Regions from separate parts of the Homo sapiens genome. Here region 1 is linked to region 2. The links come from fine-mapping of genetic effects on gene expression. A gene starts in region 2. The other region holds a variant in brackets. All regions are shown on one strand. Distances are between the middles of the regions.

What was found. PIP is the estimated chance that this variant, and not a neighbour inherited with it, causes the effect. A credible set is the group of variants that fine-mapping cannot tell apart.
Region 1: its variant is the best candidate, but not a certain one, in a credible set for the expression of ARSH in esophagus mucosa (GTEx, PIP 0.74).

What each region holds. Positions count from the first base shown.
Region 1 is chrX:3,017,533-3,032,457 of GRCh38, reverse strand. ARSH (arylsulfatase family member H) reads right to left here. Exons shown (of 9, transcript NM_001011719.2): 5 at 13,788-13,924; 6 at 8,303-8,437; 7 at 4,983-5,145; 8 at 3,090-3,211. Among named protein-coding and RNA genes, the nearest start is that of ARSF, 16 kb to the left of the region's middle. The variant C/T (reference allele first, on the strand shown) is at 5,841.
Region 2 is chrX:2,997,894-3,015,335 of GRCh38, reverse strand. It overlaps ARSH (arylsulfatase family member H), which reads right to left and starts at 8,790. Exons shown (of 9, transcript NM_001011719.2): 1 at 8,632-8,790; 2 at 5,185-5,306; 3 at 2,164-2,289; 4 at 1-366. The coding sequence starts at 8,723.

The DNA.
Region 1 (14,925 bases), 18 kb before region 2:
TTCCCTTCCTTCCCTTCCCTTCCCCTTCCTTCCTTCCTTCCTTTCCTTCCTTCCTTTCCTTCCTCCCTCCCTCCCTTCCTTTCTTCTTTCTTCTGATATGAAATGGTTACCAAATCTATTTTCAGAGATCAATTTTATTTTTCATTTTTTATTATTTACTTATTTATTTATTTTGAGGCAGGGTCTCACTCTGTCGCCCAGGCTGGAGTGCAGTGGCAACATCTCAGCTCACTGCAACCTCTGCCTCCTGGGTTCAAGTGATTCTCCCACCTCAGCCTCCCGAGTAGCTGGATTTACAGGCATGTGCCACCATGCCTGGCTGCAGAGATCAATTTTAGATAGAAAATATAAGCATTCCCCAGCCTCTGGTAAATGAGGATTATACCGAAGTCTACTGGTGGGGTCTTGCAGAGAAGCTGTGCTTTCCTACTAAAATAGGATCAAATCATCTAACTGGATTCTTTACCGCCTTTGGTTTTTTCCCTCCTTACTGCATGGAGTGCAGGTGTGATGCTTGGAGGAACTGCAGCCACTTTGCAACCATGAGGTGAGATGCACAAGAATGAAAGCTAGCATGTCAGAGGTGGCCAAGTAGAAAAAAAGAACCCTGGTCCCATGACCGTGGCACTGAGCACTGTGTCAGCCCCATGCTCCCAACTTCTGAAATTATGATGAGAAAAAATAATAACAAAAAATTCTACTGTATAATCCTCTATAGTTAAATTTGGGAGGCTTGTGCTGTTTACGGGGCTGTTTTATTTATCATTGATCATGTCCTGCACTCATATAGAATCTTAAAAACATAGATTTTTATTTACTTATTTTTGTTTTTTTAATTGTTTTATGTGGGACTATCCACATCAAAATGAAGATACATCACACCACAAGTGACTGATCCCATCAGAGAAAATTCCTCCTGCAAATAAAGTTAAATCCAACCAAGTAAGAATTCTGGAATTTCATGCAATGACTCCAAAAGACCTTTCTTTACAGGTCTAAGGCAAACGATGCTATTTGTTAATTTATATTTGTTTGCATGACTTCCATAGCACGAATGTGGGACAGAAACAATCACTAGGATGTTAGAAAGGAAGGAAGGTGGAGATAAGCAACCACCCGGCAGGTCATGTTGAAGAATTTACTCCTCGTTGCTAGAATAATTACTTCAGTCATCCCTAAGCTGTGGGTATTCATAGTCTCTCTTTCTCTCTTGTTCTCTCTCTCATGTATACATTCACACAAGCTAATGCATACTTACACACACACATTAATCATGTTGTCTTAATTTTCTGTATCCTATAATGTTTTGACTTTTTTTTTTTTTTGAGACAGTGTCTCACTTTGTTGCCCAGGCTGGAGTACAGTGGCACGATCATTGCCAACTGCAGCCTCAAACTTCCCACTCAGCCTCCTGAGTAGCTGGACTACAGTTGTATGCCACCATACCTGGCTAATTCTTTTTTTTTTCTTTGTAGGGACAGGGTCTTGCAATGTTGCCCAGGCTGATATCAAACTCCTGGGCTCAAATAATCCTCCTACCTTGGCCTCCTGAAGTGCTGAGATTACAACTGTGAGCCACTGTGCCAGGCTAGTATTTTGACAGCTTGAGGGGCCTCATAGACTTGGGGAAAGACTGCTCCTCCCAGGACTAGCTGATTCCTAAAAATAGCGATATGGTTTGGCTCTGTCCCCACCCTAATCTCACCTTGAGTTGTAATAATCCCCATATGTCAAGGGCAGAGCCAAGTGGAGATAATTGAATATGGGGGCAGTTTCTGCCATACTGTTCCCATGGTAAGGAATAAGTCTCACGAGATCTGATGGTTTTATAAGGCATTTCCCTTTTCGCTTGGCTCTCATTCTCTCTTGCTTTCCACCATGTAAGATGTGCCTTCCACCATGATTGTGAGGCCTCCCCAGCCATGTGGAACTGTGAGTCCATTAAACCACTTTTTCCTTTATAAATTACCCAGTCTTGAGTATGTCTTTATTAGCAACGTGAGAATGGACTAATACAAATAGTAACAACTCACTTAGGAACACACCCTACCTATGCAAGCATCCACCTCCTTTATCTAACTCTCACACAGTAAGCTGATATTTTCTCTGTCCTAAATCAACCCAGCACCGGGTACCAGGCAGCTAGGGGCAGTCTCTGTTGCTCCAAACTTACTGTAATTACTCAAACTACCAGTGTGAAGCTGTTCACCCTGCCCTGCCTGACCTTTCCCTTGGAAAGCCTAATAATAAAGGCTGTTGCTTGGGCTCCTCATTCCTTCCTGCCTCTGCTTCCAAGCCAAGCCCTGGTGCTTCCCACCGTGAACCTGTGTGGTAGGGCATATCCCCTTCTCTCGGGAAATCTAAGTCATGAAAATATTGCAATGGCATTGGTTTGTCTGTGTCAGCACTCACCTCCCTAAGTTAAAATGCTTTGAGTGGATCGGCTGTGGTGGGTCACACCTGTGGGAGGCCAAAGAGAGAGGATCACTTGAGCTCAGCAGTTCGAGACCAGCCTGGGCCACATAGTAAGATCTTGTCTCTATTTTATAAATATTTTAAAAATTTAAAATAAAACCCTTTGGGCACAAATCTCTCTCACAAACACATCTCTCTAAAATCCTACTGCAGGCCAGGCACGGTGGCTCACGCCTGTAATCCCAGCACTTTGGGAGGCTGAGGTGGGCAGATCGCCTGAGGTCAGGAGTTCGAGACCAGCCTGGCCAACATGGTGAAACCCCATCTCTACTAAAAATACAAAAATTAACTAGTCATGGTGGTAGGTGCCTGTAGTCCCAGTTACTCAGGAGGCTGAGGCAGGAGACTCACTTGAACCTGGGAGGTGGAGGTTGTGGTGAGCCGAGATTGCGCCACTGTACTCCAACCTGGGTGACAGAGTGAGACCCTATCTCAAAATAAAATAAAATAAAATAAAATCCTACTGCAGTGCACTGTTTATGTGGCTTTCTCAGCGAAAAAGAACCATCATAGCTGGGCAATATCTGCACATGGTGCAGCTTCCGCCAGGAGACGAAGGAGACCGGAACCGGGCCCTTATCGTCTTTCCACGTGTCCACAGCCTTCATACTTACAGTCCTTCTGATGCCACCTGACCGTGTGCAGATAGACCCCACAGTAGTGGAAGAGGAACTCGTGGTCGGAGTGGGACGCCCTTCCTTCCAGCAGGGGCATTAGGTTCTGGCCGTCAATCACTCTTGGGAGAGAAGGGGGTGTGTAGAAGGTGATGAGAGAGGCATGGTTCAGTCACGCATTTTATAGCAGAAGAAAGAGGAGGAGGAGGAGGAGGAGGAAAAGGAAGGGGAGGAAGAGAAGGAGGCGAAAGATAAAGAGGAAGAATTTCTTTTTTCTTTTTTTTTTTTTTTGAAATGGAGTCTTGCTCTGTCACCCAGGCTGGAGTGCAATGGTGCGATCTCTGCTCACTGCAACCTCCGCCTCCCGGGTTCAAGCAATTCTCCTGCCTCAGCTTCCCAAGTAGCTGGGATTACAGGCACACGCCACCATGCCCTGCTAATTTTTGTATTTTTAGTACAGACGGGGTTTCACCATGTTGGCCAGGCTGGTCTCGAACTCCTGACCTCATGATCCGCCTGCCTCGGCCTCCCAAAGTGCTAGGATTACAGGCGTGAGCCACGGCGCCTGGCGGAAGAAGGAATTCTTAAAACTTTCTCCTTTTCCCTCATTTTATAACAAAAAGAAAGAGAAACAAAACATTCATTTTCTGAGGTCATGGAAGAAGAGAACAGCTAGAACTATTATCCTGATACCTTGCAAGACAATATGAGTTACTGTTGTGGATTGGAAAAATTAAGCTATTTACGCCCTTTTGATTCCAATAAAACTTCACATTTAATGAATAGATATCACCCCACATACATGGAATTAAATCGTTAAAGCACAGGATGTATTTGTTCATTTTAAAGCTCATAGACAAAGCCAGGCCTGGTGGCTCGTGCCTGTAATCCCAGCACTTTGGGAGGCCGAGGTGGGTGGATCACGAGGTCAAGAGATCGAGACCATCCTGGCCAACATGCTGAAACCCCATCTCTACTAAAAATACAAAAATTAGCTGAGCATGGTGGCGCCCGCCTGTAGTCCCAGCTACTCAGGAGGCTGAGGCAGAAGAATCACTTGAACCCGGGACGCAGAGATTGCACTGAGCCGAGATCACACCACTGCATTCCAGCCTGGCTGACAGGACGAGACTCTGTCTCAAAAAAAATAAATTTAAATTAAATTAAAAATAAGCTCATAGACAAAGTGCAAACCAGAAAGAATAATATCATTTAGCACACATGCAATTACACATACGTGTTTTGTTTTCGTTTTTGTTTTTGTTTGAAACAGGGCATCACCCTGTCACCCAGGCTGGAGTGCAGTGACGAGATCTCGGCTCACTGCAATCTCTACCTCCTGGGTTCAAGCGATCCTCCCACCTCAGCCTCCCAGGTAGCTGGGATTACAGGCACGTGCCACCACACCAGACTGATTTTTGTATTTTTAGTAGAGATGGGGGTTTCACCATGTTGGCCAGGCTGGTCTCGAACTCCTGACTTCAAGTGATCCGCCAGCCTTGACCTCCCAAAGTGCTAGGATTACAGGCACGAGCCACCGCACCTGCTCTAGGCATACATGTTTTTATTCAGTAATCATTTAACACTTAATTGCATAATGGTCTAGAAGCTGTGAGGGATGTGATGATGTATGAGAATCAGATCCCATCCATGAGAACAGTCAAACACACACAGGCATAAGTGTAATATGACAAAGGATATTAAGGTATACTCTAAGAAGAAAACAAAATATTCCACCACGCACCAAGGGGAGAAAGACATCTGGCCCTATGGGCAGAATATTGATAATTAAGTAATATACTATGTACATACACACACACATAGAATTATCAAGTATATCCACTTATGTTCAAATATATCACCCTAGGTTAGGAGCAAACACTGTTTCCATACCTGTCCTGGGACAAGATCCCTCCGCCTATATAAGACAGCGTCGGATAGATGTCCATTAAGCTGGTGGGCTCATTGATCACTCTCCCAGCCTCCAAGACTGACGGCCACCGGAATATCCCTGGCACACGGATACCTCCTTCCCATCCTCCCATTCCTTTGCCACCTAAAACCAAAGATTACGACACAACCAAAGATGAGTTAAAACCCAACCATATTGGCCGGGCACGGTGGCTCACGCCTGTAATCCCAGCACTTTGGGGGGCCGAGGTGGGCGGATCACTTGAGGTCAGGAGTTCAAGACCAGCCTGGCCAACATGGTGAAACCCCGTCTCTGCTAAAAATACAAAACCATTAGCTGGGCATGGTGGTGGGCGCCTGTAATCCAAGCTACGTGGGAGGCTGAGGCAGGAGAATCGCTTAAACCCAGGAGGCGAAGGTTGTGGTGAGCCGAGATCACGCCACTGCACTCCATGGTGGTGCATGCCTGTAGTCCCACCTACTCGGGAGGCTGAAGTCGGGGGATCAGAGACGAGGAAGTGGAGATTGCAGTGAGCTGAGATTGTGCCACTGCACTCCAGCCTCGGTGACAGGGTGAGACTCTGTCTCCAAAAAATAAAAAAGAAAAAGAAAAAGAAAAGAAAAATACAGGTTTTATCCACATTATAATGATCCTTGAGGAACAAGCTAAAAAACTTTACCCCGTGATTTCCCATATAGAGGAAGAAAGAGAGGAGTGTGAGTAGAAAAATGGCCAGAGGCAGAGTTGAGAATCACTTCTTAGACAAAAGTCCCCTTGGGTGTTTCTGAGCACAAAACAAAAATGAAGCCCTTGCCGTAAGATCAATCATGAGACTGAGG[C/T]GGTTGTTACAGAATAGAAAAATGGCCCTATGCCAAATGCCAGTGTCAAGACCATATGTCTAGACTCTTTAAGAAAAAATAGGAACCTCTCTGGAGGAAAAGGTCTCTTCCTATGTGAAATTTTCATTGAATGTCTTCTACGTGCGCACCTGTCTGACAGGCAGCATTACAAAGAAACACAAAACCGGAAGCCTCTAGCAGAAAATGAGGTAAAATTCACTGCTGACACATTCACTGATCTAACCAGTCTAACCAGTGTTGAAAGGCAGCTCAGCTTCTTGGCACCATTCTTTTTTTATTTTTATTTTTTTTAATTAAGACACTGTCTCCTTCTGTCACCCAGACTGGAGTGCAGTGGCGCAATCATAGCTCACTGCAGCTTCCAACTCCTGGGCTCAAGCGAGCCTCCCTCCTGAGCCTCCCAAGTAGCACCATTCTTTATTATAAGAAAAACTCGACAAGCTCACTGAACCAAATCTATGTGCTTTTAACATACAATCATAAAGCCATCCTGATGTTTTCTTCATCGTATTTAATAACCTGTATCTTTGTGGGGCAGAGCTGCGAGGTGTAACTAGACTAGAACAAAACCCATTGCTTACCCAGGAGATCTAAATCTCTCTATCCATTGAATTCATCGCTTCACAGGAAGCACCCTGAGAAACAGGCATCCTGTCCCAAAGCCTGAGAAATGCTCACAACAATTTTGCCAGTCCTATTCCAGGGTTATGTGTGCTTTTTAAGGACAGGGGCTTTACACTCACACATACTCATGCAATTATAATAATTATTATAATATATAATAGGTACAGTTGTTAGAATCATCATGACTGTAATAATCACACTTCGTTAGATGGCATATATATGGTGACTCAGATCTGTTCCTCACTTTTTCTACTAGGTTTAGCACCAATTTAGTCTTTGCTAATTAACAGTTATGACTACAGCAAGTCCACATGACAAGCCAGAGGAGGTGAATGCTTTCAGGAGCTCACTTCTATTAATTTACAATATATAATCCAGTATCCACAATCCTATATATATACAATGAATATAGTGAATATATATATAGGATTATGTGTAATATATAATGAATATAGTGAGTACATATAGTGAATATGTGTAGGGTTATGTATACTCTATACAGTGAATATATAGAATTCTATATACTATATATAATTAATATGTGACTATAGACATAGTAAATATATATAGTATTATATATTATATTATATATACTGAATATATAAAATTATATATAATGATCTATACAATAAATATAGTAAATATATAGAATTATGTGTGTATATATAATGAATATAATGACTATATATACATAGTGAATGTGTACAGGATTATGTATATTATATGTAGTAAATATGTAAAATTACATGTATTATATATAATGAATATAGCGAATATATATAGGATTATATGTGTTATGTGTAATGAATATAGTAACTATATATACATAGTGACTATATATAGGATTATATATCACATATGATGAATATATATGATTCTATATTATATTACATACAATTAATACGGTGAATTTATATACATAGTGATTATACCTCCAGGAAAATACATATATAAGACACACACACACAGAACTTTTTAATGAAATATAAGGAAGTTCAAACATTCTGATTTTATAATGATGACGATTTTGATACCCTTTTAGTTTTTTTGTTTTACTTGGAAGGTTAGCGGGTAGGGGGAAAATAGCGAATGCAGAATTCTTTTTTAAATTATTCTTTCTGTTGGCATGCCTTTGGTGATGCCTAAGAGTGGGTGCCATGGAGTTCTTGAACAACCCGGCATGAAGTCTATCAAAGTGAGCTGGAAGAATCTGCTGGCCATGAGGAGCTAGGCACCCCAGTCAAATGAAAAACTCTTTTTTCTGATCCACATAACACTAGTTAAAGCATAATGAATAGCATCATTGGTGTGATTGAATTAAAAACCTGCATCTGAGAATCCAAGTGAGGATTAATCTAAAGGAGCACTTCTCACTTAGAAATGACCTTGTCCCCAGGGGACACTGGGCAATATCAGGAGACATTTCTGGTTGTTGCTGCTCTGCGGTGGGTGCTACTGGCATGTGTGGGTGGAGCCCACAGACGCTGTTCAACACCTACAACGGCACAGGATGCCCCCAGCCAGAGAATCCTCCAGCCTCAAATGTCAATCGTGCGGAGGCTGGGACATCTGCCACAGATGGTCATTGAGATGCTGTGCTGTCTCCTGGGGTTGGCGTTGCTTCAAACATTTTACTTTGAAGCTCTTGGAAACTGCCCCAAAATTTGCAGCTTTTTTTTTTTTTCGGTCTAGCTTAATAAGAGTCTAACTCACATCAAAATATCTGAACATCATGGCAAATGAATTCAAGCAAACACAAAGCCAATAGAGACTACTGATTTAAAATGGACAGGCGTTGGTTCTCTACACACAATCACCTTTGTAGATCCCGTTCCAGCCACCCAGCTGAACAGCCCCGTCCAGGGGCTCCAGGTGGCCCCCGTTGTCAGAGGTGAAGTACACCAAGGTGTGGTTGGCCAGGCGCTCCTGGTCCAGGGCATCCAGGATTTTACCTGGAGAGGGTCAGAGACACAAAGACGTTGACCTCTTGATGCAGATCACCACTGCTTTATTACATATCTGCTACTATGTATTTATTACACATAGCGTTTCAATGTTATTCTGCACTACACGATATTGTATAATTAATCATATAATATTGTAATACATACTATTTTAAACTGTACGTAATATAGTGTATATAATATATATTATATCCAGCAGTTAAAATATTTAATATATAATGTAATAATGTATAATATATGCTATATTTACTATAATACATACTTTTATACATTTGAATTACTAATTATATATTTATTATATATTGTATGATATATAGTACATATTTCTTACAAATACATATTAATATATAACATGATGTATTAAAAATGCATAAAGAATTGTTATATATTAAAATATAATCAATTATGGAATAGAACAAAATATATTGTAATATGTACAATCAATACATACTATGTATTATTATACCATATGACTTTACAATACTAGAAACATATCATTATATAATAGTTTATCATTGTGTAAAAATTGTTATGTAATTATATAATAACATGTAACTATTATTTTATTATATAGTATTTTGTATATCAATGCAATATGTAAAAATATATGTTTATTGACATAGGAAAATATATTAACTATAAGATAAAATATGAGTATATGTAATAAATGTATAATATATAATGAACATATTAAATTTTATAATATATGTCTAATTAATATATTAAATTTTATCATAAATTTATATCTTTATATAAATATATACTATATTATTTTATATAATTGAATGATATGTGTCACATATTACTTTAATTAATTTTATTATATTAATGTAATTATATAAATTATATTAAATATACTAGATACATTAATTATATTAATTTAAAATGTAGAATAGTTCATATACAATATATAAAGTACTGGTTTATTATACAATTTTATTGTATAATGTGTTCATTATTTTATTATTGAATATATAATAAAATCTATTTTATTATACAAATCGTGTAATAATACATAAGGTCATCATTGCCCCAAACGATTCAAATAGACAGTGCCAAGAAGGCCCAGCAGTTAAATAAACCGATGAACATTAATTTAAAAAAATACAGTTTGCAAAATGACACCTCCAGGAACATATGAGCAAAGCCATCCCCGTACTCCAGGGCACAGCACCACCTCCCTTAGAGACTTGCTGTCCTGGCTGCTATCTGAAGTCTACATGGAAATTGCAGGTTATTCTTGCTGTTTGGGTTATGGTTAAGATCTAATGACAATTAATGCTGCGCTAGACTCAGCAGACACTGTCTTTAATGTGTTGACAATCCCTCAGGAGGACAGTTTTTTAAAATAATAAGTAGAAAGCTGTTCTAGCAAAATTCCAAACAACATTCATTTCCTTTCTGATGTCTGTTGAGCATTTGCTAATCAACAGATAACATCGTCCTGGGCCTGAGGTCACACTGCATTTCTAGTTTACACTAGATCATCTCTGTGCTATGCTCTTGTCCCATTCAAAGATAAAAGAAAATGTAACTAGCTTAACTAGCTGCACAGAAAACTGTTTATACGTAAACTCAGTGATTTGTTTTAGAAGTGACATATACTATTTTTTAGAAATGCTATAATTAGAAATTAAGATATTTTAAAGCCCAGGGTTTGTAAGATGAAAGATTGTAAAGGCTTTCTGGGAACAGCATAATTATATGTAAATTATCAATTCACATTAGATCTGGCTATAGTATAAAAAAATCATAAAAGTGATTTGTAATTTATACTGTGCAAATATAGTAGCTGCAAATTCTTTTTCTGTTCCAGAACAAATATATTTGCAAATAATTGTCTGTATAGTGTCTAAAGTGAAAACACACAGATGCATATGAATATATAAATACTAATGGTAATAGGTCACTTATAAGACCTCCTACCAAAGACACCTGGAAAGAAACCAATAATGAAAAGTGATTAAGGTTGGGCCTGGTGGCTCACACATGTAATCCCAGGACTTTGGGAGGCCGAGGTGGGAAGTTTGCTTGAGCCCAAGAGTTCGAGACCAGCCTGGGCAAGATGGCAAAACTCCACTACAAAACACACAGAGACACACACACACACACACACACACACACACAAATTGGCCAGACATGGTGGTGCACATTTTTAGTCCCAGCTACTCACGAGGCTGAGGTGGGAGGATCACCTGAGCCGAGGAGGTCAAGTGTGTGGTGAGCTGTGATCGCACCACTGCATTCCAGCCAGACTGGGCAAAAGAGTGAGACCCTGTGTCTTAAAAAAAAAAAAAAAAAGGACTAAAAGTGTTTTTTAATAGGCACAAGTTTCTTTCATTGGAAAGTTTAAAATGTTACTGAATTCCCGAAGATTCATTAAGTTCATTTTGCACGTTGTATTTGCATTTGCATGAGTATAGCATTGTTATGGCTTATTTTTGAGTAAAGTTAATAAGTTACTAAACCTTTGAGTTTTATACTCATATTGTTAAATAGTAAAATAATACCCACAGAGATACCTGTCTGACTTTCAATATGTCTTTATTTTGGTAGAATTTTTATAAGAAATGACGGAGAAAACTCAGAATATTTGGGAGATGTTACGCAGAAAAATAGCTACTCATCATTTCTCCTGTGTCAAATAATATTAGCCATTTAATAATGCAATTGCTAGCTTTTGTAACACGTCTTCATCATGTATTTACATATACTGTAAAACAAACATAATTATTTCTTAGTGATAAACACTCAGATATAGACTTTAACAGAAAATCCCTTTACGGGAAACTGTCCTTTGACTAAGTACAACTATAGTAAGCGATTTCAAAAGAAGCAGAGAAAAAAAAAAAATCCCAATTATATAATTCCATAAAGGCTACAGTGTTATAGCTATTTTTAACTGTAACACCTTTCAGTGTTTGTATTTCGTTACCAAGGAATTAAACTATATATAATAAATGTGTATATATGCAACATACAGTGCTATGTGTGTATATGTATAAAACATAACTTGTGTATACATATAAACCATATGGGGTGTGTGTATATATATATGTATATAACATATGGTGTGTGTGTGTATATAGCTTAATTCATATTAAATCTGACTATAGTATTATGCATAAAAGTGATTTGTAATTTATACCGTGCAAATAAAATAACTGCAGCTGGGTGTGTATATATATACACACACATACACATCCCACAGCAAAGATTAAATTAAGAAATACAGAGCTTAGCTTTAGTTCAGCAAGCTTCAAAAGGGTTTGGATGTCAGGGTTAGTTCCCTTTAACTAAGCCCATAAGTTTTTCCCTTTAACACATTCCTTTTTTCTCCCCATTTCTGCTTAAATGCCTTACTGGCAGCCTGGCAGCACTGACTTTCCTTGTATTCTTTTTTTTTTTTTTTTTTTTTTTGAGACTGAGTCTGGCTCTGTCGCCCAGGCTGGAGTGCAGTGGCACAATCTCGGCTCACTGCAAGCTCCGCCTCCCAGGTTCACGCCATTCTCCTGCCTCAGCCTCCGGAGTAGCTGGGACTACAGGCGCCCGCCACCGCGCCCGGCTCATTTTTTCTATTTTTAGTAGAGACGGGGTTTCACCGTGTTAGCCAGGATGGTCTCGATCTCCTGACTTTGTGATCCGCCCGCCTCGGCCTCCCAAAGTGCTGGGATTACAGGCGTGAGCCACCGCACTCGGCCTCTTTTTTTTTTTTTTTTTTTTTTTTTTTTTTTGAGACGGGGTCTTGGAGTACAGTGGTGCAATCTCGGCTCACTGCTACCCCCACCTCCCAGGTTCAAGTGATCCACCCACCTCAGCCTCCTAGGTAGCTGGAACTACAAGGCGTGCGTGTGACACCATGCCTGGCTAATGTTTGTATTTTTTTGTAGAGATGGAGCCTTGGTATGTTGCCCAGGCTGGTCTCAAACTCATGGGATCAAGTGATCCTCCCGCCTGAACCTCCAAAAGTGCTGGGGCTACAGACATGAGCCACCACGCCTGGCCCCTCTCTGTATTCTATCTCCTCTTTGGGATTAAATATAGACAGTAAATGTTACAATGGTACCTATAATTAGAGGTAAACACACATAGTGGAAATATACAAGAGAAATTTATCCCATGACAAGATTCCCCTCTTTGTCCTATCCGACACCACTAGTTCTTCAGTAATTTTAACTAGTATTTTATAGCTCACTTAGATGGTGGTTTTCAGAGAAAAGAAAGTTATTTATAATAAAATGTGATTGATTAACACCCCTTAAATGCATTTAAATTAAAATAGCTCTGTTTCTTTCAAAGGCACTCCATATAAGTCAACAGAGGCGGCTGATAACTGGGAGATTGTTCGTTTCAATGGTTCGGCAGAGCACCGTTTTCAGAAGTTTGCACTCAGAAGAAGAAGAAAAGTACTGTATTCCAAAATGAAACACCATCGCTGAGAGGAAGGACAACTCTGTCACGTACATAGAGGCGGGGGTGGGCAAATGCAATTCAACTAGCACAGCTATTTATTATTCTGGAATGCATACAGTAACTCTTCCCACCTGCTCATTTATTATCCTTAGCATTTCTTTATAGTGAACACTATGCCTTTGAAATAAGTTGCTTTAGTTGTGTTAAATCCCCATCCCAATTTTCTATGTATTTCCTGTAGAACTGACTAATCAGAATAACGTTCCCTTTTATATCCATCAAAATAATTGGGAATTGAAATTACAATATTCTTTTTTTTTTTTTTTTTTTTGAAACAGAATCTCGCTGTGTCACTCAGGCTGGAGTGCAGTGGTCTCATCTTGGCTGACTGCAACCTCTGCATCCTGGATCCAAGTGATTCTCCTGCCTCACCCTCCCGAGCAGCTGGGACTACAGGCCCGCATAACCATGCCTGGCTAATTTTTGTATTTTCAGTAGAGATGGGGTTTCACCATGTTGGCCAGGCTGGTCTAGAACTCCTGACCTCAAGTGATCTGCCAGCCTTGGCCTTTCAAAGTGCTGGGATTACAGGTGTGAGCCACTGCGTGCCCGGCCAGGAATTACAATATACTTTACAGTGCAGCTTTCTTTATCTTGCCAATGAGTTTTTCAGAAAAGTGGCTGTCTTTATTTTAAAGATGGGAAAACTTGTATTTACAAACTGTGACTTATCTTGGGGAATATATTTCACTGGTATTGCTGAACAATTAAAAGCCAGCTTTTAATCCAATTAAGGGATGAAACAGATACTTTTCAGGTATCTATGCTATGCAAGGGGCTGGACATAATTTGAGACAGTTAGTACAGATTTGTTTTTCTGTAGCCCGTACTTCAGATATTTACAGTTCTGTTACTGAATACTTACCCACCATCCAATCCATTTCTTCTACATTGTCCCCATACCTGCCATATTTACTGCGCCCAACAAACTTCTTTTTGGAGATGAGTGGAGTATGTACGTGCAGGAAGGAAAAAAAGAGGAGAAAAGGTTCCCTTTTGTACCTAAGGGGTAGAAAGTTACCAAAATTACCTTCACAAATATGAAGTCATTTCCATCATTTAAATGCGATTCTGCACTGATGAAAAGATCTCATAATAGCTGGCGGAGGTTTTCTATGTACTTTAGATGACAATACCACTCCTGTGAGTCGTAAATACCACAAGATTTATGTTGAAAGGATATGAGGAGGAATGAAGGATAACAGAACATTTGTGTTCCCAGTAAAATGTTTCATGTAGCCAGGCACAGTGGCTCATGCCTATATTCTTTGCACTTTGGGAGGCTGAGGCAGGAGCATTGCATGAGCCCAGGAGTGTGAGACCAGCCCAGGCAACATGGCAAGACCTCGTCTCTACAGAAAATACAAAAATATAGCTGTGCTTAATGGCACACCTGTGATCCCAGCTACTCAGGAGGCTGAGGCAAGGGGTTCGCTTGAGCCTGGGAGGTGGAGGCTGCCGTGAGCTATTATCACACCACTGCACTCCAGCCTGGGCAACGCAGTGAGACCCTGTCTTAACAACAACAACAAAAATGTTTAACGCAGTTCATTTTATACTCTCTTGTGTCCAGTTTAGCATCTGACATAAAGTAGCAGCTTAATAAATCTTTTAATCTTTGTTGAATGGGTTAAAAAGTATGAATTCTCCTCATCTATTGTTTCAAAGTGTTCTTTTAGGTATGAGTTCAGAAGAATCATATCTTAAGGACAGACTCAGATGTGCCACAGTAAGGATTTGATGCTCCTTACTCTCCATTTTCCCTTCTTTCTTTCTTCCACCTCCTTCATGGTTCCTGGAACATAAGTCTGATGGCTGGAGCTTTGGCATCTACCTTGGGCCATGAGGCTGCTCACAAAGGATGGCAGAGAACAAGATAACCTCACTGTATCTGTAGCCTGCCTACCCCAAGAGAGAAATAAATTCCCCTCATTTACATCTTGCTTTTTGTGTTCTGCATTTTATGTATTTATTTATTTTGAGACAAAGTCTCACTCTGTTGC
Region 2 (17,442 bases):
TTGGCTGCTGGATAATTTCATGGTTCCTCATAAGGATGCAATTCCAACGTCGAGTAAATCCATAACTAGAGTACCAGGAAGTGAAAAACAGAAAGGCGAGGAGAGCAAAGACAAAGATGACCTTCCATGGCACTGAGAACCAGCGGGCGAACTTGGGAATGAGAAGCAGAAAAGGAACCAGGGCAAGGGCTACCGTGGAGATCCACAGTTTGATCCTGAGCCAGCGGTGCAGTTCTGGTGTCTTGGATGCCTGGCAGTCGCTTAAAAGTCCAAAAGGCACCCCGTAAAAGTAGTGAAAACCATGGTTGAGCGGGTGGTAACAGTGATCATTCCGAGAGGCGCAGCTCAAACCCAGGTGCCATTTGCCTAAAAGTAAAATAAAATCGTACCATGGCAGCATGGCAGCATTCAATGCCGGTCTGTTTCTAGAATGTGGGCTTCCCTTTGGAAAAGTCAAATATAACTTTCATTCTGTTGTCATCATGGTTTTTTCTTGATATCCCCAAATACCTCCCTGGTATAGACATGCCACCAACAGCCTTCTCCCTACAATATGCCTCTTTCAGACAAAAGCCATGCAGCAGGAGCCTCTTTGCTTGCGACAAGGAGAGGAGCCTAGTGTTCATTCAGAAGAAACCTTTTGCTTGGTACCAAACAACCTCATGAACAATGAGAAACTTTCCAGGTATCTGGAGCTTGCTAGGAGGGCAGAATCGATGTCTTGGTTGTTTGGTGGGGACAATACCAAGGACTTTCAGTGCACCTTGCACATTCATGCTTTTATCTAGCAGTGCCTTCCGACCCTCTTATTCCATCTCACTGAAAGGTAACCGAGATTTTATGTATAGATGGAACACCTCTTCTAGGTCCTCAAGCTAGGGATGACAAAGTAGCCAAAGAATTTCATCAAGAACCAAACGATTCTGATAATGCAAGTAATTCCTTTTATCAAGCACATACTCTAGGGGGCCAGGTCACGTTCTGATTTGTCCGCACACATTATTATATTCAACACTTCCCAGACCCTTTATTATGAATAAAAAACACATTGTCTAGATTATTTTTTTAAGAGACAGAGTCTTGCTCTGTTGCCCAGGCTGGAGCGCAGTGGCATGATTATAGCTCACTGTAGCCTCGAACTCCTTGGCTCAAGCAATTCTCCTGCCTCAGCCTCCTGAGTAGCTGGGACTATAGGTGCGTGCCACCATGCCCAGCTAATTTTAACATTTTATTTTTGTAGATCCAGGGTCTTGCTATGGTGGCCTAGGCTGGTCTTGAACTCCTGGCCTTCTTCTGCCTCAGCCTCCCAAAGTGCTGGGATTACAGGTCTGAGCCACTGTGCCCAGCTATCTAGATTTATTCAGAAGCCTGAGTCACATTAATGAATAATAGCAGAGTCAGATCTGAATCCCGTGCTCTAATGATGTAAGAACGCTGCTCAAAGCTAATCTAGAGAATTCCCACTCACAGGACGCTGCTGGGAGTTGCATGGGAATACATGCCCTACTGATAGAAAATTTCTTAACCTTTTTTTTAACTGGGGATATCTCGGAGCTGTGGCTTACAATTCACATTAGGAATCCTCAAAAATAGTGGACCGTACAATGCTTTTGAGTAGCATTTCCCAAAAGGATTTGATCACACAAGTTATTCTTAGAGGACTATCTTCTAGGACTGGAATTCTACAAACTTATTTTTCGGTGAAAGGCTCCCTCACAAGCTCATGTCCCCCCGCCCCAAACCCCCACCCCCGCCAAAAGGGCATAGAATATTAAGTGATCTAAGTCGACCAGCAATTGCCTCCATTTGACAACTCTTAATGCTGTAAGTTTCCCATTTCAACAGTACTTCTCTACAAATTTACTGGTTTTTCTGCTAATAATGGTGTCACAAACATCGTATCCCTCCAACACAACATTCCATTTTAGTGGCAACTTTGGATACACTTGTTTGCTTTCTGTTCTCATTGTTTTTCCAATACTATGCCCTCGATTCTACACATGCTCAATCAATGTGTGATCATTTCCTTCTCCAAGTGTCTTATCTCAAAGAGAAGTCGGTCAAACTGGCGCGCACAAAGCCAACATCCCCGGAAACACCTTAGACACGATGACAGAGAGGCTGCAGGATCACGTTTCCACGGGCAGAGTTCCGGCGCCATACCTATGAGTCCCGTGCGGTAGCCACGGTGCTGCAGCAGCTTGGCAAAAGTCGTTTCATTGGTGGGAAGACCACCTGACCCACCAAGCCACGTGAAGGCACGGTTCAGGTTGTAGGCAGACACCATCCCTAAATTCACAGAAGTCAATAAGTTAGCACCATAGTCTTTGCTAATACCGAATTTATCCCGACATGCTTAAAGTCCTCTCCTCCCGCACCTCCTCAAAGCCATTCTTCCCCAAGTTTTCTGTTGCTTTCTGGCTGTACGTCCTTGACCCTCCTTTTTTCACTTGCTAAATGCAAACATTCCCTTGGAATTAGGGTTGCCAGAATAAATACGGGACACTTAGTTATATCCATTTGAATTTCAGACTAACAACAAATAACCTTCGTTAGTTTTTCATATAGAGGCTGCTAACCTTCAATGTTTCAATAGTATCTGAGGACACTACTGCATTTTAGCTGGGTATAAATACATTTTTAAAAGTATCCTTGAGAATCTGAAATGAAGAAGTGTAGGAGTGACAATTTCTTTTTCATATGTGTGTGTGTGTATATACACATACATATATATATTATATATATATATATATATATATATATATATTTTTTTTTTTTTTTTTTTTTTTTTTTTTGAGATGGAGTTTCACTCTGTCACCCAGGCTGGAGTGCAGTGTCAACATCTCGGCTCACTGCAACCTCCGCCTCCCAGGTTCAAGCAATTCTCGTGCCTCCGCCTCCCTAGCTGGAATTACAGATGTGTGCCACCACACCTGGCTATTTTTTGTGTGTGTGTTTTTAGTAGAGACGAGGTTTCACTATGTTGGCCGGGCTGGTCTCTAACTCCTGACCTCACGTGATCCACCCACCTCAGCCTCCCAAAGTGTTGGGATTAAAGATGTGAGCCACCGTGCCTGGCCTCCATATAATTTTATGTAGATTTATACTGGTGGACAATATTATACACCTATAGTTTAAAAGGAATTCACAAGAAAACCACAAGTGAAGATCAGCAAGAAATAAATAAATGATAATTTCAGGCCGGGCTCAGTGGCTTACGCCTGTAATCCCAGTGTTTTGGGAGGCCAAAGTGGTTGGATCACCTGAGATCAGGAGACCGGCCTGGCTAATATGGTGAAACCCTGTCTCTACTAAAAATACAAAAATTAGCTGGGCTTGGTGGCAGGCACCTGTAATCCCAGCTACTCAGGAGGCTGAGGCAGGAGAATCACTTGAACCTGGGAGGCAGAGGTTGCAATGAGCTGAGATCATGCCATTGCACTCCAGCCTGGGTGACAAGAAGGAAACTCCATCTCAAAAGAAAAAAGTATATTTCAAGGATCCTACCTTGGAAGAAGAAGAAAGTAGACTCTAGATAGTGTCATTGATAGGAAAGAGAAACAGTTTTATTAAGGGAAGCATTAGACCATTATCTTGCTGTTGAACTGTTTTGCTGAAATTTTTGATAAGTAGAATGAATTAAACTGAACCGTTTGTGTCAAATGATTAAAAATATACACATGGCAATGACTTGAAATCTCTCCACCAATCACCTAATTTTTTTCTTAATTTTTAAAAATAAATTTTATTTCACCATAATCAATACTTAAAATTCCCTGAAATTAGGCAGAGCATGGTGGCTCACTCCTGTAATCCCAACACTTTGGGTGGCCAAGGCAGGTGGATCACACATGAGGCCAGGAATTCAAGACCAGCCTGGCCAACATGGTGAAATCCCATCTCTACTAAAAATACAAAAATTAGCCGGGTGTGGTGGTGCATGACTGTAATCCCAGCTATTCAGGAACTGAGGCAGGAGAATCACTTGAACCAGGGAGGCAGAGATTGCAGTGAGCTGAGATCAGACCCTTGCACTCCAGCCTGGATGACAGAGCAAGAGTCTGTCTCAAAAAAAAAAAAAAAGAAAGAAAGAAAAAAAGAAAAAATCCTGAAATCCTGAAATTATAAGTGTAGTTTTTTTTGGAAACTCATACAAATTCATATCTTTATCCCTCTTCATACACGGTACTGTGTTATATAGAGACTGCTTATCTAGAAACCAAACTATTTTGAACAAAATGGAGAACCTTGAATTATGAAAGAAGGTCATTAGGCAACAAAAAAAGATAATAATAAATCAATATTTATGGGACAAAAACTTTTAATGTTTACTCTTAATTTTAGTATAATTCTCATTAACCTAATTAGTTCATTCCTTGAATGTATTGGATGAGAATCTACTACTTAGGAGGAAGAAAATTCATACAGAAAAATTTTTCACTGAAAAATTAAACTGTGAAGGCAGGTATACTAAAATTATGACAAGCAAATACTAGAATTAAACAAAATGCAACAGCATGACACGATATTTCACATAGAGTCTGATAACCATGAACACTTCAATAGTGTCTAAGGGCACCACTATATTTTAGCTGGGTATAAAAATTGTTGTTCATAATATTGATCTTGAGTGGATGTTTGTAGGTATTGATCCTAAGCTAAGCAGCAAAGGAACACATTTAATTGTCGTTATATCAACTTGGTAAGTCTAAATCTTGAAATGATGGGGTCAAGTAAGGGAGTATGTAAAAGTTTCATTTCCTTTTTGTTTTCTCAGTTATACCTTTTTTCCCAACTGTGTCTAGTTTTCCAATCTCATCCACAGAGGTGGATTTGATCCACTTATCTCAGAACCACTGCATGGTCTCTGCTAGCTTAAAGACATCAGGGGTCTCTTGAGAAATCTTAGCACAAGTACCTGAAAATGGGAGTGTTGACCATAAGTTGGCAAATTGCCCCCAAGAGGCCTAAACCCTGTCGCTATATGCACAGAGATGAGCAGGTGCAGTGGTACCTGGTGAGAGGCACACATATTTAAGCTGCCCAGGGATAACAACCACCTTTGAATTTAGATCCCTAATACTCTGAGTGACCTTTTGAGAATTCTTATAAAGATTTGCAAAAACTAATCATTAGAATGCATTCTGGTGAGACTGAAATGTTGCTGCCTTTTTATTGCCTCACCTGATCTGATGGGGTACCGGCCGGTCAGGAAGGCAGCCCGACTTGGGGTGCACATGGAAGCAGCTGCGAGATGCTGGGTAAGCCTCACTCCTTCACTTGCCAGGCGGTCAATATTAGGTGTGCTGCAGACCAAAGAAGAATTCAGCAGGTGAGTTTCTAAAAATTCTCAATACAATGATCAAGGATCAAAGCTATTCTATTTTGGGTCAAGTTGACTCTATTTCTGGTAAACCTAAAATCCATCTTTTTAAAACTTTAATCTGTCTATTTCCTTATATGCATTGATGGTTAGAAGCAAATGGAAACATAAGTTTAAAATATATCTTTAGTCAAAACTATTACAAATGAATACAGGTCACTCGGTATACAGTTTTATGAGTCTGAGAAAAAAATGTATTTCAATGGAAAAATTAGCCAATTTCTTCTTATCAAGGACCTAAAATTAATGGGTAATTTAGATTAAGTAAAATTTTAATGTGTTTCATATTTTTTTAAGAGACAGTCTCTTGCTCTGTTGCCCAGGGTGGAGTGTAGTGGTGCAGTTATAGCTCACTGCAACCTTAAATTCCCTGGGCTCAAGTGATCCTCCCACCTCAGCCTCTCAAGTAGCTAGGTCCACAGGTGTGCGCTACCATGCCCTACTAATTTATTTAAATTTGTATTTAATTTAATTTTTTTTCTGAGACGTGGTCTCACTCTATTACCCAGGCTGGAGTACAGTGGTGCGATCCCAGCTCACTGCAACCTCTGCCTCCCAATTCAAGTGATCCTCCTGCCTCAGCCTCCTGACTAGCTGGGATTACAGGCATGAGCCACCACGCCCAGTGGTATATTTTTAGTAGAGATGAGGTGTCACCATGTTGGCCAAGCTAGTCTTGAACTCCTGACCTCAAGTGATCCACTTTCCCCAGCCTCCCAAACTGCTGGGATTGCAGGTGTGATCCACCACACCTGGCCTTAAAATTTTATGCAGAGATACATGTCTTGCTATTTTGCCCAGGCTGGTCTCAAACTCCTGGCTTCAAATGATCCTCCCACTTCAGCCTCCCATTAATATATATCTTACGGTAAAATTGACCTATTTTATGACCAAATTGTGACATTTTGGAGTTTAATTTATTTCCCATTTTGTTTGTCTAATACATTGCAAAAATTTTGTAAAACTTATAGGTTAAAAAAAAGACGTGCCTGTTCTCCTAAAAGCTAAACCATATCCAATCTTGATCCCATGGGTACAACATTTTTTTTCCATAATCCCACAGAAAGATGATAATGGAGGCTGAGTGTGATGGCTCACGCCTGTAACCCCAGCACTTTGGGAGGCCAAGAGGGGCTGAACACTTGAGCTCAGACCAGGGTGGGCAATATGGCAAAACCCCACCTCTACAAAAACAAAAAACAAAAAAAAAACAAAACAAAAGAAAAACCACAAAAATTAGGCAGGTGTGGGGGCTCATGCCTATAGTCCCAGCTACTCAGGAGGCTGAGGAGGGAGGATCACTTGAGCCTGGGAGGTCAAGGCTGCAGTGAGCCAAGATCATGCCACTGCACTCCAGTCTGGATGACAGAATGAGATCCTGTCTTAAAAATAAAAGGAAAAAAAAGAGATAGAGGAAAGAAAGGAAAAGAAAAAGGGAAGAAAGAAAGAAAGAAAGAAAGAAAGAAAGAAAGAAAGAAAGAAAGAAAGAAAGAAAGAAAGAAAATAAGAAGAAGAAGACCAATGCCTTTCAATCAACAAATATATGCTTAAGATATAGGACTAGACTGTGATCTGCATTCCAAGAAGAAACAATGTTATTTAAATCCACACTAAAAGATGCTATGTATTTTTACAAGAGCCAGATTGGTCTATCGATAGAGAGTAGAGAAATAAAGAGCCCCGGGTACCAGAGACTTTAGAAGTAATTCAAGGAAGATATTTTTAAAACTGTAGACTAATGTGGTGTATGTATATAATGAAAAAGTATTCAGCCATGGAAAGGAATGAAGTGCTGACGCATGCTACAATATGAATGAACCTTGAAAACATCACGCTAAGTGAAAGAAGCCAGTCACCAAACACCACTTACCATATGTTATGAGCTAAATTGTGTCCCTCCCAAATTCCTGTGCTGAAGTCCTAACCCCCAGGACCTCAGAATGTGACTGTATTTGAAGATGGAGTCTTTATAGAGGTGATTAAGGTAGCATGAGGTCGTTAAAGTGGACCCTTATCCAATAGGACTGGGGTCTTTATAAGAAGAGGAAATGAGGACACAGACACACACAGAGGGATGACCCTGTGAGGACACAGGGAGAAGACGGCATCTCCAAGCCCAGGAGAGAGGCCTCAGGAGGAACCAGCCCTGCAGACACCTTGATCTCAGACTTCCAGCCTCCAGGACTGTGGGAGAATCAATGTCTGTTGTTTCTAAGCCACCCAGTCTATGGTATTCTTTTATAGCAGCCTGAAATAGACTAAGACACCTCATAAGAAGAAGAGATGAGGACACAGACCCACACAGAGGGACGACCCTGTGAAGACACAGGGAGAAGACGGCATCTACAAGGACAGGAGAGAGGCCTCAGGAGGAACCAGCCCTGCCCACACTTTGATCTTGAACTTCCAGCCTCCAGGACTGTGAGAGAATAAGCTGATGTTATCTAAGCCAACCAGTCTGTGGACCTTTGTCACGGCAGCCTGAGAAAATAAATACTTTATATGATTACTTGTATATGAAATTCTAAGAAGAGACACATCCATAGAGACAGAGGGTACATTTGTGGTTAACAGGGCATGGGGATAGGATGGGAAATGGGGGTCTTCTTTGTGGGGGTGACGGTTGTCCAACACTGTGAATGTACCAAATGCCACTGAATTGTTCACTTTAAAATGGTTAAAAGGTGATTTTTTTTTTTTTTTTTAAACAGAGTCTCCCTCTGTCACCCAGGCTGGAGTGCAGTGGTGGGATCATAGCTCACTGCAGCCTCAATCTCCCTTGCTCAGGCAATCCTCCTGCCCCAGCCTCCTGAGTAGCTGAGACCACAGACACACGCCACCATGTCCCAGTAGATTTTTTTTTTTATTATTTTTGTAGAGACGGGGTCTCCCTGTGTTGCCCAGGCTGATCGCAAACTCCTGGGCTCAAGCAATGCTCCCACCTTGGCCTTCCAAAGTGCTGGGATTATAGGCTTGAGCCGCCATGCCTGATCAAAAAAGGCCAATTTTTAAATGTAAATTTTGCCCAACAATGAAAACGCCACCACCAACAGCTAGAATCTAAGGAAACTGGGAGGTTAAGTGGTCTCCTGACATTTTGCAATTTTCCCCAGTGACCTCTGCTATTCCTGCCGATAACATCAGACAATGACTTCTCTCCAGAAACCCTTCTCTGCAACGGCAAAGACGTGAACACTGTGGTAAGGGAGACTCCCACATACAGGGAGGGGGTCAGAGTCCATCTTTACCTCACTGAGTTATTACCGTAGCAGCACAAATCCCCCACTCCAAGGTCATCTGCCATCAGCAGGACAATGTTGGGTCTGGCGTTTCTTGTCATAAATGTGCCATCAACACCGCAAAACAAACAGCACAGGGACACTGACAGCCAGCAGCTCCTGAAAGCATTTTTAGAAATAAGCAAACAAACAAGCAAGCAAAAAACCAGGCACTATCAATTAACATTTGCATTTTAGATAACTTAACATATGAAACAGTGATATTCGTTATCAGTTCTCACTGTACAACGTACCTGTGTTGTCTTACTCAGAAACTAGATTAAACAACAACAACAAAAACTAATGTTCTATACCGGGGTCCCCAATCCCCTGGCCATGGACCAGTACTGGTCCGTAGCCTGTTAGCAACCAGGCCACACAGCAGGAGGTGAGTGGTGGGCAAATGAGTGAAGCTTCATCTGTATTGACAGCCGCTCCCCATTGCTTGCATCACTGCCTGAGCTCCACCTCCTGTCAGATCGGTAGCAGCATTAGATTCTCATAGGAGCGAGAACTCTATTGTGAACTGTGCATGCAAAGGATCTAGGTTGTGTGCTCTTTATGAGAATCTAATGCCTGATGATCTGTCTCTGTCTTCCATCACCCCCAGATGGGATCATCTAGTCACAGGAAAACAAGCTTAGGGCACCCACTGATCATACACTACGATGAGTTGTATAATTATTTCATTATATATTATCGTGTAATAATAATAAAAATAAAGTGCACAATAAATGTAATGTGCTTGAATCATCCTGAAACCATCCTGCACCCCCTTCCTGTCTGTGGAAAAACCGTCTTCCACAAAACCAGACCCTGGTGCCAAAAATGTTGGAGACCATTGTTCTATACGAATATGGCATCATATTTTACCAATTCATTTTGCAAGCATGATGAGGTTTAACTCTTATAACATCTTTTGATATTGTTTTAGTGACATCAGAGGCTTAAAATTTATAACAGGGGTTACAGTTGAGGGTAAGCTCTAAAAATTGAATTTTGCCGGGTGCTGTGACTCATGCCTGTAATCCCAGCACTTTGGAAGGCCAATGCGGGTGGATCATTTGAGCCCAGAAGTTTGAGACTGGCCTGGGCAGCATGGTGAAACCCCATCTCTACAAACAATACAAAAATAGCTGGGCATAGTGATGCATTCCTATAATCCCAGCTACTCAGGAGGCTGAGATGAGAGGATTGCTTGAGCCTGAGAGGTCAGGATTGCAGTGAGCTATGAATGCACCACTGCACTCCAGCTTAGACAATAGAGCAAGACCCTATCTCAAAAAAAACTTTTTTGTTTACTTTATTGAATAAAAATGTAACCAAGGCCGGGCACAGTGGCTCATGCCTGTAATCCCAGTGCTTTGAGAGGCCAAGGCAAGTGGAATACCTGAGGTCAGGAGTTTGAGACCAGCCTGACAAACATGGTGAAACCCCATCTCTACTAAAAATACAAAATTAACCGGGCATGGTGACACGCGCCTGTGGTCCCAGCTACTTCAGAGGCTGAGGCAGGAGAATCACTTGAACCCAGGAGGCGGAGGTTGCAGTGAGCTGAAATTGCACCACTGCACTCCAGCCTGGGTAGCAAGAGTGAGACTCCGTCTCAAAAAAAAAAAAAAAGTAATACCATCTGCTCGGGAGGCTGAAGCAGGGATAATTGCCTGAACCTGAGAGGCGGAGGTTGCAGCGAGCCAAGATCGCGCCACTGCACTGCAGCCTGGGCAACAGAGAGAGACTCTGTCTCAAAAAATAATAATAATTGTTCATATTTATGAGGCTTATAGGGGTGTGTGTGTGTGTGTGTGTATGTGTGTGTGGCACCATGCCCAGCTGATTTTTGTATTTTTTTTGGTAGAGATGGCGTTTCGCCATGTTGGCCGGGCATGTCTTGAACTCCTGACCTCAGGTGATCCTCCCACCTCGGCCTCCTGAAGTGCTGAGAGGTGTGAGCCATCGTGCCCAGCCTATAAACAATTATTATTTGTCAATTAAAAATAAAAACTTTTAAAGTTTCCTTTTTAGAAAAGAAACTTTCCAAGGTTTAACTCTGTCAGTATTCACGTATTCTTTTTTTTTTTTTTTTTTTTTTGAAGCTGAGTGATAGAGCTTTAGGGTTTTTGTTTTTTTTTTTTGAGACAGAGTCTCGCTCTGTCACCCAGGCTGGAGTGCAGTGGCGCAGTCTCGGCTCACTGCAAGCTCTGCCTCCCGAGTTCACGCCATTCTCCTGCCTCAGCCTCCCGAGTAGCTGGGACTACAGGCGCCCGCCACCACGCCCAGCTAGTTTTTTGTATTTTTAGTAGAGACGGGGTTTCACCACATTGGCCGGGATGGTCTTGATCTCCTGACCTCGTGATCCACCTGCCTCGGCCTCCCAAGGTGCTGGGATTACAGGCGTGAGCCACCGCGCCTGGCTGATAGAGCTTTATTAAACTATTCTCTCTCTCAAAAAAAAAAAAAAAAAAAAAGTAAGCAAAATGGAAAATCAGAGACTAAGAGCGAGTCAGTTTTGATTTTTCAAGTGTTCAGTTGTACTTTTTAATACATTTTATAACCTCAAAGGTTTTCTCTAAGCCACATGGAGCGGGGTGGGGGCAATTATAACAGAAGCTCCAGTAACTTATTAGATCTAAGCCCAGAACTAGATGCTGAAACACTGATATTTGGGGATGGAACACATGTGTGTATAGAAACTGTTTTCTCCTTTGGTTCATCAAGAACATATGTCCATAGAAGAAATCAGGTGGAAAAAATTCCACTTCAAAAACAATCTAGAAATCATTTAAAATCTATGAAAGAAAATTTAACATTTTTGAGATTCTGCTAAATTTTTTTTGTCAATTAGTTCAATGAAAGGCAGATTTTACTAAATTTTATTTTATTTTTCAATGGGTCAATGTTGGAATAGATCTACTAAGTTTTATTTATTTATTTATTTATTTATGTATTTTTTGAGACGGAGTCTCTCACTCTGTCACCTAGGCTGGAGTGCAATGGCGCGATCTCAGCTTACCGTACCCTCTGCCTCCCAGGTTCAAGCGATCCTCCCACCTCAGCCTCCTGAGTAGCTGGGACTACAGGTGTGCACCACCATGCCTGGCTAATTTTTGTATTTTTAGTAGAGATGGGGTTCGCCATGTTGGCCAAGCTGGTCTCAAACTCCTGACCTCAGGTGATCCACCTGCCTCGGCCTCCCAAAGTGCTGGGATTACAGGTGTGAGCCGCCACGCCCGGCCTAAATTTTAGATTGTAAAAGAACCCTCTTGTAACAGCTGAATTGTACAATATCCTGAAATATTCACAACAGCCATTGATCAAAAATGATCACTATGAATTGAAGACCAATATCCCCTCAGTCAGGTTCCCCAACTCCAAATTCCATTCAATCAATTCCAAGTCCTCCTAATTCAACCTCAAATATTATATCATAAATCCTTTTGTATCCATCCATCTTCCCTTCTATTTCATGTTTATATTTTTATTTTAAAAACTTTTTAAATTGAGATGGGGGTCTCACTAGGTTGGCCAGGTTGGTCTTGAACTCCTGAGCTCAAGCAATCCTCCCACCTCAGCCTCCCAAAGTGCTGGGATTACAGGTGTGAGGCACAGTGTCTGACCTATTTCTTTTTTAAATATTAATAGTAGTTATTTTATTAAATCTCAAGCTCATGTTTTTTTTTAAATAGACTTATTTTTTAGAGCAGTTTTAGGTTCACAGAAAAATTGAGCATAGGTACAGAAAGTTCCCACATATCCCCTGCCCCTACATATGTAATAGCTTCCTCCATTATCAACACCCGGCAACAAGATGGTACATTATCTGATACAATCAATGAACCTACATTGAGAAATCATTATCTCCCAAAGTCCATAGTTTAATTTAAGGGTCACTCTTGCTGTTGTACATTCTATGGTTTTGGACAAAAAGTCCCAGCCTACTATTAAGAGGGTTTAAGGATGAGGATAGGGAGATGATACATTGAAAGATATCTTGGCTAAGAATTTTTCAGGATTGAAGACAGACATAAGTTTTCAGACTGAACCCAGTTAAAAAAATTAAAAACCTCCAGTTAGACCTAGCTCAGTAAAGGGCAATGATGGAGACAGAGGCACTTGGTTTAAACACAACCACAGATAACCTAAAATGGGAGGATAACTGGAATGTCAAGAGACTTCCCAACAGCCACAGTGGATGCCTGATGACCAGGGACCATTGCTTCCAGAGTGCTGAGACAAAAGTCACTCTGAACTCAGAGTTCCAAACCCTTCTAATACATCATTGAAGAATGAATAGGGATTACAGGCATTTGGATTGTACATGAACCCAAAAACTCTTGATGAAAATCTACTAAGGAATATTTTCAGCAAAAGGCAAACTTATCTTAGAAAGAAAGAGTAGACAGGCCAAGTGCAGTGGCTCATGCCTGTAATTCCAACACTTTGGTAGGCCGAGGCAGGTGGATCACTTGAGGTTGGATGTTGGAGACCAGCCTGGCCAACATAGTGAAACCCCTTGTCTACTAAAAATACAAACATTAGCCAGGCATGGTGGCATGTGCCTGTAATCCCAGCTACTAGAGAGGCTGAAGCAAGAGAATCGCTTGAACCTGGGAGGTGGAGGTTGCAGTGAGCTGAGATCACACAACTATACTCCAGCCTGGGTGACAGAGCAAGACTCTGTCTCAAAAATAAATAAATAAAAATAAAAGGGTAGACATAAGAAAAGATGTTGAAAAGAGATAAAACATGTTGATAACATTAAATACGCATTGACAGAAACTATTATTAATTATTATTATTTTGGAAAGGAGTAAATAATTCACTAAGCGGTAATTACATGGAGGAAGGTGGGGCGGGGGGGGTAGGACTGTAGTGTTCAAACATTCTCCAGTCTTTCCTTTCTTCAAAAGGAAGCTGGAAATAGAGATTAACCATCATATTTTGGTAAGTTAATAATGATGTTAATATGATTAAGGGAAACATGAGGTACAGTTACCAGGCCACTTGAGGGGAGAAGGATGGGCCAGTGTATTAGTCTGCTCTCACACTGCTAATAAAGACATACCTGAGACTGGGTAATTTTTTTTTTTTTTTTTTTGAGACAGAGTCTCTCTCTGTTGCCCAGGCTGGACTGCAGTGGCACGATCTCAGCTCACTGCAAGCTCCACCTCCCAGGTTCACACCATTCTCCTGTGCCTCAGCTTCCCGAGTAGCTGAGACCACAGGCGCCCACCACTACGCCCGGCTAATTTTTTGTATTTTTGGTAGAGATGGGGTTTCACCGTGTTAGCCAGGATGGTCTCGATCTCCTGACCTCGTGATCTGCCCACCTCGGCCTCCCAAAGTGCTGGGATTACAGGTGGGAGGGAAAGAGGTTTAATAGACTCAGTTCCACATGGCTGAGGAGGCCTCACAATCATGGTGGAAAGCAAAGGAGAAGCAAAGGCACATCTTACATGGAGGCAGACAAGAGAGCTTGTGCAGGGGAACTCCGATTTATAAAACCATCAGATCTCATGAGACTCATTCACTATCATGAGAACAGTGTGGGGGAAACCACTGCCATGATTCAATTATCTCCACTGGGCTCCTCCCTTGACACGTGGGGATTATTACAATTCAACCTGAGATTTGGGTGGGGTCACAGCCAAACCATATCAGCCAGGAAACAGAGAACCCTTAATGCAGCCCGTAAAAAGCAAGAGGGGAAAAAAGAAAACCACAGGAGAATCTTGAAAATATAAGATAGCATGTAAGATGACAGAAATAAGATCAACTATCTTAATATTTATAACAAATGTGGGTGGGTTTACCTGCCTATTAAAGAATCCCATACTAATTTTTAAAAATCTGTCCTATGTCTTTCTTAAAGGACACACCTAAAACCTAATGACAAACAAAACTTGAAACTAAAAAGATGTAAACATCTAAGTAGGCCAGCCAAGTAGTAATCAAAAGAAACTTGTAACAATAATAACATCAGCCAGAAGAAAATTACAATTGAAAAATCATTAATATAGAATGGCAAGACTATTATAGAATAATAAAAATACAAATCCACAAAGATGATATGAACATCATAAACCAGTGTGAATTTAGTTATGGCTTGAAAATATAGACAGTAGGCTGGGCATAGCAGCTCATGCCTCTAATTCCAGCACTTAGGGAGGCCGAGATGGGAGGATCCCTTGAGTCCAGGAGTTTGAGACCAGCCTGGGCAACATAGTGAGACCCAATCTCTATAAAAAAGAAAAAAATTACATAAATAAATAAAAGACAAAAAATAGAAAGCACAGCTTGAATAAAATATGAGGAATAATTGATAATCCACCCTCATAAAGGACATTTTAAGCACATATTTAACCCAAGTCCTCCAGGATAGAGAAAACCTTGACAAAGAATCCTTCTCTCTAGAAATGGAGAGTGATGAATGTTCGTGAATTTGCCAGCTCACCAGTCATACAGCAATTGCTTCATGGCTTCTTCTTAGATTATCTAAGGAAGAGAAGAATAAAATAAGAGCATCTGCAAAGCAAATGTTTTCCTCATAGCTAGGCAGATAATGGTCCAAAGGCTTAACTAGATTGTTTTGTGGTGACCCAGTAAACCCAGTACATTCTTTTTTTTTTTTTTTTTTTTTGAGACAGAGTCTTGTTCTATCGCCCAGGGTGTAGTGCAGCGACTCGACTCACCGCAACCTCTGCCTCCCAGATTCTAGCAATTCTCATGCTTCAGCCATCCAAATAGCTGGGACCACAGGTGTGCACCACCATGCCCGGCTAATTTTTTGTATTTTTAGTAGAGACAGGGTTTCACCATGTTGGCCAAGCTGGTCTTGAACCCCTGTCCTCAAGTGATCCACACGCCTCGGCCTCCCAAAGTGCTATGATTACAGGTGTGAGCCACTGTGCCTGGCCAGCCCAGCACATTCTTTAAACGTATTTGCAAATAAGTGATATTTGCTCACAAAGAATAAGGCAAAATTCTATGCATGGTCTATGCAGCTCAGGTTAATTCTAATGGCAGAGTTACAAGAAATTACGTTGGTATAGCAACAAAAACCTACTATTCTGGTGTCAGTAAAGTAAATCAGTAATCAATGAATGTGCATATATTCAATAACTGCTTTGTATCAGATCTAATTTATGTGTGGTACTGTTCTGGAAAGCACTTTGTTTTTACACATACTGGATCAACTGTGGTATCTACCTTAAAAAGCACAACAAGAAACACCATAGACCTGTGATAGTCATGGAGGCCAGACTTGTTTGGTGGAGGAAGACATGTTTAGCAGCTGTAATTAAGATATTTTTACAAGAATGCAACCAGTGGTACAATCTGGTGTTTCCCTGCCTAGAATCCTCAAGTGATTCCAAGTTGGTGAGGCTTTATAGGCTGAGGAACTGCCCCACAAGACAAATAATATATAATAAAGATTAATAGCACCGCCATAATGTTAGCAGAGCTTTATAATTCCCCAGGCATTTCCACACACTTGTTACTATTTGATCCTCAAAATATCTCACCCCGCTTGCCTCAAAGGGTTAATGATGACTCTTCCGTTTTCTAGGAGAAGCAATTGGGTTTCATATCGCTTAAAAGACTTTCACAAGGCTGGTAAATTGAAGAGCTGGGATTCAAAATAAGGACTGATTCTCAGGAGTCTGTGTGTGTGTGTGTGTGTGTGTGTGTGTGTGTGTGTGTGTAAATTAGCCAATTCCCCAGGCCATCTTCTCAACTTCAACCCTCCAATATGGCTCTCAAATGTAATATCCTTAAAGACTAACTACCTTGGGGCATTTGGTGAAGCCCACGTTCTAACCGTTTAGTGGTCCATTTTCTCTACCCCACAACTTCCAATTAATACCTCTATATTAGACTTGCCCACAATGTGACATTTAAAAAATATCACATTCTGGTTCTCATGTCTGTAACTCCACTGCCTAATATACTATTTAGTATTCCCATAAAGTTCACACCGAGAAAATCCAGAGTTTCCCAATAGTTAGGTGAGACAGAGACAGAAACATGGATGAATTGAGAATATCGTCTTTTTATTCACCATATTTAGCCATTTCCACCCTCCTTTAATAAGCATCTCTCCAGGACAAGATTAGTAAGGATCACCATGAATGGTCCTAGCCACCAGTGCAATGTTCTCTCCAACTAGCAAGGAATCAAGGTTATTTTTATTTATTTATTTATTCATTTAGAGACAGGGTCTCACTCTGCTGCCCGTAGCCATGACTGTAATGTGAGATTAAAATAGCAAAGATGTGGAATCAACCCAAATGTTCATCAATGATAGACTGGATTAAAAAGTGTGTACTTATACACCATGGAATACTATGCAGCCGTAAAAAGGAAAGAGATCATGTCCTTTGCAGGGACATGGATAGAGCTGGAAGCCATTATCTTCAGCAAACTAACACAAGAACAGAAAACCAAACACCCCATGTTCTCACTTATAAGTGGGAGCTGAACAATGAGAACACATGGACACAGGGAGGGGAGCACCACACACTGGGGCCTGTTGGGGGGTAAGAGTAGGGGGAGGGAGAGCATTAGGATAAATAGCTAATGTATGCTGGGCTTAATACCTAGGTGGTGGGTTGACAAGTGCAGCAAACCACCATGGCACACGTTTACCTATGTGACAAACCTGCACATGCTGCACATGTACCCCAGAACTTAAAATAAAAATTAAAAGTTAAAAGAAAATGAGAGATTATACACACACACGCACACATATTTATATATGTAAGAAATCTGAGATACATA